2 separate regions of the Homo sapiens genome follow, and region 1 is linked to region 2. The links come from fine-mapping of genetic effects on gene expression. A gene starts in region 2. The other region holds a variant in brackets. All regions are shown on one strand. Distances are from middle to middle.

The links. PIP is the estimated chance that this variant, and not a neighbour inherited with it, causes the effect. A credible set is the group of variants that fine-mapping cannot tell apart.
Region 1: its variant is the best candidate, but not a certain one, in a credible set for the expression of MYO16-AS1 in whole blood (INTERVAL, PIP 0.59).

What each region holds. Positions count from the first base shown.
Region 1 is chr13:109,301,185-109,306,720 of GRCh38, reverse strand. No RefSeq gene overlaps it. Among named protein-coding and RNA genes, the nearest start is that of LINC00370, 22 kb to the right of the region's middle. The variant T/A (reference allele first, on the strand shown) is at 2,413.
Region 2 is chr13:109,165,259-109,170,258 of GRCh38, reverse strand. MYO16-AS1 (MYO16 antisense RNA 1) reads left to right here and starts at 2,956. Exons shown (of 3, transcript NR_047700.1): 1 at 2,956-3,240; 2 at 3,549-3,623. All of the region lies in intron 33 of MYO16 (myosin XVI), which reads right to left.

The DNA of each region.
Region 1 (5,536 bases), 140 kb before region 2:
GGAGACTCAGACTTTTCAAGATGCTTAAGGGCTTAGTCAAAGGTGGCAAGTGACCTATTAAGGGTAAAACCCAGTTCATCCCATAGGACCTTCCTATGGCTAATTAGAAGTTTGTTCTTCTCCATCGTCCGCTCTCGTTCTCCGCGGAATCATTCTTATCACCATCTAAATGTGCAGTTATTTTCTGCATCCCATTGCTCCGACTGCTTGCTCATTTCTCTTCTCCCTCGACGGCAAAGCTCCCTACACTTTCTCTTCTGTTATCTCCCATTCCCCTCCATCCTGTCTCACACTTTCTTCCGCTCTCACTCTCCCTTCTGCTGAAGCCACTCTGGACCGGTGCTGATGGCTTCCATGTTGCTGCTCACAATGAGCAATTCGAAGCCTTCCTCTCTTTGAGTTTTCAGCAGTGCCTCACATATTTAATTTGTAAATCCATGAAAAACCAAAAAGACTTTCTGTGTTTTCTTCTGCTTCTCAGTTGCTGCATCTTGGTCTCCTTCGATGATTCCTCCACATCACTACCAACTTCCCAGCACTGGAGCATGCCAGGATTCTGGGCCTGGTTCCCTTCTTTATCCTCATGAATTCCCCTGGTGACTTCAGGCACTCCTTTAAATAACACCCCTATTCTGAGGACTCCCAAATGCCTATCTTCAGTTCAAAACTCCCCCTAAACCACAGATGCATATTTCCTTCAATATTTACACTTGAACGTCTAAGAAGTACCTCCAGTGCAGCATGTGCAAAACAGAACCACTGCCTCTTAACATGAGCACACACACACACACACACACACAGGCACAGGCACACAAATGCACACATGTCCTTTCCTTGCTTTGGTGTTTTCTATCATCTTTCTAGTTTCTCTAACAATAATTCTTGGAGTCATCTATGACTTTTTTTTTTGTCACATCATCTTTCTAATCCACCAGGAAGTTGTTGTGGCTCTGTCTTCAAAACGTATTCAGAATCTGACTTTACCAATTCCATTGGCTGGTCTCGGCCACCATCAGGGCACACAGAGATTATTGCACTCGCCTTCTAACTGGCTCCCAGCATTAATTCTCATGTTCCTACAGTACCTTTTCAACACAGTGATCCCTCTAAATACTTGTCCGCACACTTTCACCATTTCTTTGCTCAAAACCCTTCAATGAGTCTTCATTCGTCTCTGAAACCAAAATTCCTACAAAGGTCTTCAAAGCTTTCCTGATCTGAGCTCAGCTACTTCTCTGATATCTTCTGTCTCCTCTTGTCCTAAACTTCCTGGCTGCCTTGCAGTGCTTCAAGCCCAGCAGAAGTCTCCCTCTCCTAAATGATTGCACCTGCTTCTCTCTCTGCTTGGAACTCCTCCCTAGTATCACCTTTTCACTGTGGCCATGCACACTATTTACAGCTGCAGCTCTCCCCTCCCTGCCATGACTATCACTATCACCCCCTGCCACATCGTTTCACTTTTCTCTATGGCATTTATCACCATCTGAAAACCATCTGAAAAACCGTGAGTTTCCTTCACATCTCAGTTCTATTTGATTCCTGAGTTGGGATACCGAGTTTGAGTAGAAGGCGATAATACATTATCCGAATTTGCTTGGTGCTGGAATTTTGGACAGCAAGTAACAAGAATTTGGATAACAAGAGATTTATTCAAACGTGTACGTGTATGTGTTTAGTTCCCAAGTTTGAAGAGCTGGAGATACTTTAAAAACTTTGCGTATTTTTTAAAATTTCTCTCCCCAGATCTGAAAAACACATGCATGGATGATGCCTCTTTTACTTCCTGCAATGTCCTTTAGAACAGGCTTGCAGAAAGTAATCATTCAATAGGTATTTATTGGTGGACCAAAGGAAGAAAGAGAAAAAATAAGAGAGATAAACTGAACATCGATGGAAGCAGAGGCTGGAGGTGAAGAGGAATCATATTCAGAATAAATAATATCTTCTATCCTTTACAACCCTGAAGTGCTGAGATGCAATCATTCCAGCTCTATTATTTCCGAAAGCAAATCGATCAGATTTCTTTTGTTTCCGCTGTGTGGCCCCCAGATCAGTAGAAAGCACCACTGTCTGTGGCCGCAAGTCATCCTTTGAACAGCACCACACTCAGATAGGCTCTTGTATCACGAATCCTGTCTCCAGAAGGTACACGAGTTCTTCTGCTGTCCCCTTGAAGCCGTGGTGTCTACATGCCCTCGGTCCTCCATAAGAGATAACTGCTCTTGGTTTTGCAATACTCAAAGAAAGCGTGAAGCCTCTGCAGGGGTCTCTCCTTCTCTGGGTGATGATAGAGGCTGCAGTCCCAGCTACCAGATGTGCTGGCATTGGCAGCAGCTGCAGAAATGGAGTTTCTGTGATGTGGCTCACAGCATCATTGGAAGAAGCTTAGCCGCTGTCCTCTTAAGGCAGCCC[T/A]AGTGATGATCTCTTGAGCTACCTAATTTTCTTTAATAAAGTTTTTTTTTTTTTTTGTATAAAATAGCCAGAGGAGATTTCGGTCTTACTTTCCTACTTGCAGTTTAATATCCTATCTTGAAGGGAGAATTTTTGTCCCTGGGTTGCTTCTTCTTTCCTCTGGTGGAAAGAAAGAGGGACAGCGTTCCTGGAAGTTAGGTATTTCCATTCTGCTTTGAAACTTTCAAAGTTGAAATGCTTTAATTCCTTTGTGAATTATTGAACTGCAAAACAAGTAATCTAAATGAGGCTTTCTCCACCTCGGTGTTATTGACATCTTAGGCAAATGATTCCTTGTGGTGGGCTGCGCTGTGCCTAGCAGGTGTTGGGCAGCATCCCTGGACTCTACCTGCTGGATGCGATGAGCACCCTCCCCATCTATGACAACCAAAAATGTCCCCAGATGCTCCCAAACCCCCCCCAGTGGACAACATCACTCCTAGTTGAGAAACACTGATCTAGAGATGGTTGAACGTGTTCTACTGGGCATTTTATTGTCAGGACAGCAACTCAGAGTAAAGAGACTGTACCAAGTGGTTTGTTCCTTAAATATGAAATTCCCAAAGCATACTCCAACACATTATTTTTGCCATATTAAAAGTAAAACAAAATACTTGCTTTGAATCATAAGAATCCTAAATTTTTTCATTGTTTAGTTAGTCACCCCTCTGTTAAAAGGGATGCCCCACTTTAAGATTATACGTCATTTCTCGAAATGACTTAGTAGGTTGTCTAAAGCTAAAATCTGTAGTAATATATTTGGAAAATAAATAACTGGAATAGGCAGTTATAGTTTAGTTTTCCCACCTTCCCCAAATTAAATTCAATTATGTGGCTTTCTATCAACATATTCTTACTGGGGCCATAACACTCTGCTATTTTCACGTTTATGTTGTGCTTCTTGATATTGATCCCTCCACATTTCACATTCACTACAAGTTTTACTAAAGCCATTTATTTTTAATAACAAGGTAGATGAGCTATTTATAGCAGTCTTATTTTTGAGAATACAATACACACATATTACAAATATAGTAGACCATAACCAGAATTTTGATTCATGGAAAACCTGTCATTAACAGAATAGAATTACTAATTTACGACGTGGCTGATGAGACAGGCGATGGCCACCAGCAATTTTTGAAGGTAAAAAACTTAATAAAACTATTGTTAATATTATAAATAATTGATTATCATTTATTACAAAATAATTATCTTTAAACAATGATCACTGTTAACAAGTGATTGCTTTAGGATTATTGCTTAATTAGTATTAAACAGCATAGTACATATGGCATATGATATTCATTGTCTATTATTATTTTTACAAGCACAGATGGCTTAGTACAATCAGGAAGAATAATGGAGAGTAATCTTTTTTTAATGTAATTACCACATGAATATGTTGAATGATTGTTTTGTTTTGCTAACATTATAATATTATTTTAATTAAGATGCCAAGGACTGTAATTTTTCCCACCTAACTAGACCAAAAGGAAAAGAAACAGATATATTCAAGATGTCTTTAAAGCTTTATTATAAAAATATTTCTGTTTTATAAATATTTGTCACAGTAGTATATCTAACCTTGCTTAAATCTTAGCTCTACAAATGCATTTAAAAACTCTTACTATTCAATGACAGTTCAGTGTCTCATAAAACTTTAATGGTTTGTAGCAAAATGATAAAACTATGTATTCTAGATGTGTGTATAGTTTTGGAAGTAATGGTTCTATGAAAGAGGGTAGCTGTGATGACTGACTATGTAGAAGATAATTTAGATTTCTGTAGGTCTTTATTAAACTAATATTGATTACTCACAAAGATAACATGATTCCACATTGTCTTTACAAATACAGCACTTATAATGTAGAAATACAGTTGTTTTATTTTTTTACAGGAGAATTTCTTTACCATTGATACCTCCCTTTCATATCCCCTGAAACCCATCTTTGATTTTCAGTGCTAAAGCCCAATATGAGCTTTGTCTAGATCCAAGCAAAAACACATGTGAGCAGACAATAAACCTGTGCAGGCTTGGAGTCTGGGACTCTTAGGAGAAATCAAGACTCCCAGGAGAGCTGACTCAAAGCCAAGCCCCTGCTGAGGCCAGGGGGACTGAGGGACTTACTTCAACAATCCAGGGTAGATCAGTGCCATCTTTCACTCAAAGTGGCCTTATGCAAAACACAAATGGTCGGCAGACTTCCTGAGGTTGGTAGGAGGGTTCATTTGATCAAAACAGAGTAGCTGGCTGGAAGTCTGGCCCTTACGTCTGGTCAGAATTATATTGTTTTTGGCCACAGATGGTTGCAAGATGGTGGCACATATGGTGATTTCCGAGTCTAGCACCACGAGTATTGTCATCTCCTAATAGGAGGCTCAGATCGCAAGCAAGCCTTTCATGGCTCCCAGAGCAGGTTCTGAACAGATGCCAGGAGCTCTCCTGGGGGAGGCACATGATACCAATCCCAGTCACACAGGAGAGGGGCTGCTCAGCAGGAGCCTGCAGTCCCAAGACAGCTGCTGCTGGAACCCAGAGTCTGATTTCCAGTGCACAGTTGCATTCTTAACACAGATTTTGGAGCTTTTTTACCCTATGTGTGCACATGCACTTACTAAGGCAAAGCCCAGTTGCCAATGACCCATATTCTCTGGAGGAATCTCTCATTCTCTATTAGAGGCAAGTACATATGTCACCTTCAAAAGAGGGGAGAACGCAGGGTTGTGGTGATCCTCGTGGCCTGTTACCAGCATGTTAACACCTGCACAACTCACTGCCAGTTCCCTGGAGCTAGCCACCAGCTCACCATCAATCCAGCTCCCCAGAGGCGGGGGGCCAGAGATCCTACAAGAATCACGTCTCTCTCACCTGAGCTGAGATGGTCAAGGCTCAGCTTTTAAAACAAGGTGGAGCTCACTTCTTTTCCAAATTATAGCTTCTTCTGTCCAGATTTATTTAAATTATCTCATGACTTTAGTTCAGTTTCTTGACAATAACTATAGACAAGCCACCAGAATTCACCTGCTCCTGTTCCTTCGTCTGCACTACCATGAGAATAAACTTTCAAAAGTACACCTCAAA
Region 2 (5,000 bases):
ATTCACATATTCTGTCCAATTTTCTTTTCAGCTGTCTTTTGTTTTTAATTTAAATAAACGTTGAATATTAGCCTTTGTTGGGTAAATGTGTTAAAAATATTTTCTCCCTATTTATGTTTTTTTTTTTCTTTTTTCTTTATGGTTAAAACTTTTGTGTCTTGCTTAACAAGCCCTTCTTTCCTTTTATGAAGTAAGAAAGATACTCTCCTATTGTTTCTTCTATCCATTTTATGATTTGACATTTGACATACAGATCTATAATCTATCAGGAATTGTTGTGTGTATAGCATTAGGCAGAGTCGAGTTTCACTGTTTGCTCCACATGGATAGCAATCAATTATTCTTCCCCAGTGCTCTCACATGCCAATTTTGTCATAAATTAAGTGGCTAATTATGCAAGCTGGAGTAATATTATTTTCTTTCTCCTTCCTTCCTATTCTCTGAAAGCGTGTACGTGACATTGGAGTTATTTAATCCTTAGAATTTTGGAAACATTTAGTGGAGAAACCATCTGATTCTGGAATTTTCCTTGTAGGAAGGCATTCAATTACAAATTCCATTAATTTAACATTTACGGTGTTATTTAGCTTTCCTACTTCTTTTGTCCATTTTCGTTAGTTCTTTTTTTTTTAAGAATGTATTTGTTTATGTAAATTTGTAAATTTATCTTGGTGTAAAACTGTTTGTAATATTCTCTTACTATTTTTAATTTCAGCCAGATCTGTATTGATGTCCCCTTTTCAATCTAAAATCTGTTATTTGTGCCAATTTTCTCTATTTCTCTATCCCCTTGCAAGAAAATTTTCAATCTTATTGTTTTCAAAGATAATTTTTTAAAAGATAAACAACTTTCTCTTTCCTTCCTTTCTATCCCTTCACATTATTTTATTTGTTTTATATTTCAATAACTTATGTTCTTATTATCACTATCATATCTTTCCTTCCATTTTCATAGTATTTAGTTTTTGTTCTGTTTCTAATTTCTAGACCCTTTTAACACTCATCGTATTTGTTCTCTTGTGATGCAAAGGTTTGAAGCCATACATTTCCATTTCTTAAGAGATCTTTTGCAGTAACATGGATGGAACTGGAGGCCATTATCTTAGGTGAAATAACTAAGACACAGAAAGAAAAATGCTACATGTTCTCACTTATAAGTGGGAGCTAAATAACGTGTACACTTGGGCACAGAGTGTGGAATAATAGACACTGGAGACTCAGAAGGGTGGCAAGGTGGGAGGATGGGATGGAATGAAGCATATGAAACGACTTAATCAGGACAATATATACTATTCAGTTGATGTGGACACTAAAAGCCCAGCCATGGCCACGATGCCATACAGCCACATATTGACCATACCGACACTGTACCCGAGCCCCTTCCACTCATACACAAAAGACATTAGACATGTCCTAAAAGTTCTGTTGTCATATTTGCATTGTCATTAGTTAAAATATTTTGCTTTTTAATTTATTTTGTGATTTCTTCTTGAATACATTGATTACTTAGAGATTTTATTTTATCTTATTTTTTTAGACAAAGTCTGGCTCTGTCACCCAGGCTGGAGTGCAGTGGCGCGATCAGGGCTCACTGCAAACTCCGCCTCCTGGGTTCAAGCAATTCTCCTACCTCAGCTTTCCGAGTCGCCGGGATTAAAGGCATATACCACCAAGCCCAGCTGATTTTTGTATTTTTAGTAGAGATGGGGGTTTCACCATGTTGGCCAGGCTGGTCTCGAACTCCTGACCTCAGGTGATCTGCCTGCCTCGGCCTCCCAAAGTGCTGGGATTGCAGGCGTGAGCCACCGCGCCTGGCCTAGAGATGTAATTTTTGACGTTCAAATATATGAGCACTGTTTTTGCTGCTTTTTAATATTTGCACATTGTATCTTTTTCTTTTCTATCCCTTTACATTTACTCTTTCAGAATCCTTATGTTTTACTGTTTTCAGAAAACTTAGTTTTTAAAATATTCTGCTAATCATTTTTCATATAAGTTTACATTAAATAAGCCTTTTAAAGTTTATTATAATTAAATAAAGTTTATTTTCACATGTGTTTTCATATCTACTGTCTCAGAACTTTCTCCTTGCCCTATTTTTCCTATTTTATCCCCTTTTTGCATCTTTTGAGTTGACTTTTTATGATTTTATTTTTCTCTCTTTACTAGTTTGGATATTATCTACCCCACTAATATTCTTTCAGGGGTTACCTTTGAGGTTACAACTGGCAAGGTAGGTTTATCAGTGTATAATATTAAATATTATTTTACCCCTCCAAATTTTACTGCCTTTTTAGTTATTCTTTATTCTTTCCTTTATCTCTAAGCATTCTGAGTCTGTCAGTGTTTAATTCCTTTCATTTTTATTTTTTTTCCTAAAAATATCCTTAACTCCCTTTCATTATTACAGGAATTTTTGGGGGGCAGTTATTTTATTTGAGCATGTTAACTATGTTATTTCATTGTCTTTGGACTTCAGTTGCTACTTTTCGAAGATAGTACATATTTTTACCTCTAACTGCTTTTAAAATTAATTCTCGGTCTTTATTTTATAGGTGTTTTACTATGATACACCTAGGAAAGTTTTATGTATCCTACTTAGGCTTTGCAAAGGTTTCTGTTTCATTTTTACAAACGTTGGATTGATTATGGTGTAATTTAGAGACAGTGAGATTCACCTTTTTTAGACATACACATCTGTGCATCTGCAGACATGAGCACTCCAGGTTGTCTATAACACCACATGTCCTTCTGAACTTCATCTCCTGCCATTACGCCCAGCCTCCAGCAACCACTCAGCTGTTTTCTGTCTCCAGCTTTGCTTTTCCCCAAATGTTACATAAGCAGGATCACACTTAGTCTTTTGATTTTTTTTTTTTAACCTCAACACAATGCTTTAGCCATCCCTTTTTTTTATGATGCTCATTATAGTTGATCACTCTTATTTATTGCAGGCTTCATCCATGTGCTAGTTCAGCCTGTGAGATGCTGGTGAGCCCACCTCCAGGCACTCACGGACTCCCCACCCATTGAGTGTGGCCTGGATTTAGTGACTCAATCAAACGTGACAGAGTGCTGGGGTGTCATTTTCAAGACTGGGTTATGTGAAGACTGCAGCCTCCATCTGGGGTGCTCTCTCTTGGATTGCTTGCTCAGGGATGTGGGGAGAGCTGCTGTGCTGGGAGGCTGCCCATGTGAGTTGACTTGGATGTGAACCTTCTGTGGCCTGCCAATAGCCACGTGAGTGACCTTGAAAATGGATCAGCCTTCACTCAAGTCTCAAGATGACTGTGGTCTTGGCTGACAGCTTGATTGCTGTCTCATGGGGGACCTTAAACCAAAGGCACCCTGCTAAGCCACACACAGCTTCCTGGCCCACAGAAACTATGAAATAATAACCATTTCTTATATAAGCCTCCAAGTTTTGGGAGTAATATTTTGCACAGTGATGGATCACTAATACAAGCCAGTCATCAGTTGAAAGACACTGAATTTATTTCCAGTTTTATGTGATTATGAATAATGTCACCATATGCATTTGCATACAGGTGTTTGTGTGGACACTGCTGTCATTTCTCTTGGGAAGATACTGAGGAGTCAGATTGCTGGATCCCGTGAAGAATGTATGTTGAATGTTATAAAAATCTGCCAACTTAAATCTGTTTCCTGGTGCTCTTTCGTCAGCATTGGGAGATGCTCTAACATTTCTCACCAAGTCTTTCTTCTGCTCATGCGCTCCCTCTTCTTTCCCTAAGACTTCAATCATCCTCCTCATTGCCCTTTATATCTCTAAACCATTGTCTGGAGTTTCCATTCTTCCCTTTTGCTTCAATCTGTTTCATTCTGGGGATTTTCTGAGTTATCTTCCACTTCTCCAGTTATTTTTTATTTGTTTTGTTTTTAAACAACTATATCTAATTAAATTTAACTTTATCCTCTGTTGTACTCAATTTTATTACTGCATTTTCCAATTTCAGAATTTCCATTTGACGATTTCCTTATAGTTTCCTATTTCTGCTGAAATTCTCGTTGTTTTATTTCGTGGGGGGCTGAGTAAACATACTTATTTTAAGGCATGTGTCTTTGAATTCCAACCTTTTGAATCCCTGTGGACATATTGCAATTGGCTGCCGTCTCTGCTTTTAATTTTTTATCTTATTTTGTGTGCTCCTATGCCTGGTTATTTCTAACTGTGTTGGACTTTGCATTTGAAAAATGGTTTCTATGAATGTTTTGAAGCCTAGGATGCTATTACTGCCCTTTGGGGAAAATGTACACGTGTTTCTCCCAGGTACCTGTAGGCCTGGTTACATCTGGGCAACTCAACATGGTTCTTGGTTCTGGTTCACTCTGACTCTTGGGAAGAACACTTGAAGGCCCCACCCCAAGGCCTTGGTGGGGCCACGACTCAGTTTCTTGCCCTGTAATTTGAGAAGGCAGTCAGAAGCACAACTTGACTTCTTAGCTGCCTTCTCTGAACAATGTGGGTACCCTTATGTCCCCATGAGCCAAGCTTCAAGTGTGGGCTTCCTTGCTTCGGCTCACCTTGCACCCCACTCCCAGGTCTTCAACTGCTTCCCAGCATTTCAGCATCATGATGGTTCTCCCACGCCTCTAATTAGACTAAACAAACATGCTTTTCCCAGCCCTGCGGGAGGCCCTCAGGAATAGTTGGTCTGAGTCTTCCCATCAGTTATTCCCAGACGCCTTTGTCTTCTTTTATTTGTGAGAGAAAATACTTGCGTGATCCTCAGCTTTTGTACCTGCAATCAAGCCACTTTCTAAATGTGGCACTCATTGATGTACTTAAAATACCTGAAGCCAGTCTGGCACTTATCATTTCTTTAATATTATTTTCCTTCACATTTCTTAGTTTCCAGAATAATTTTTTAATTAAAAATATTGGTAGAGAATCTATTGCCTTCTTCTGCTCAGTATAAGACTAATTTTGGACCAGTTCTTTTAGATTAACACTCCATAAAATTTCGGAAAAGTCAACA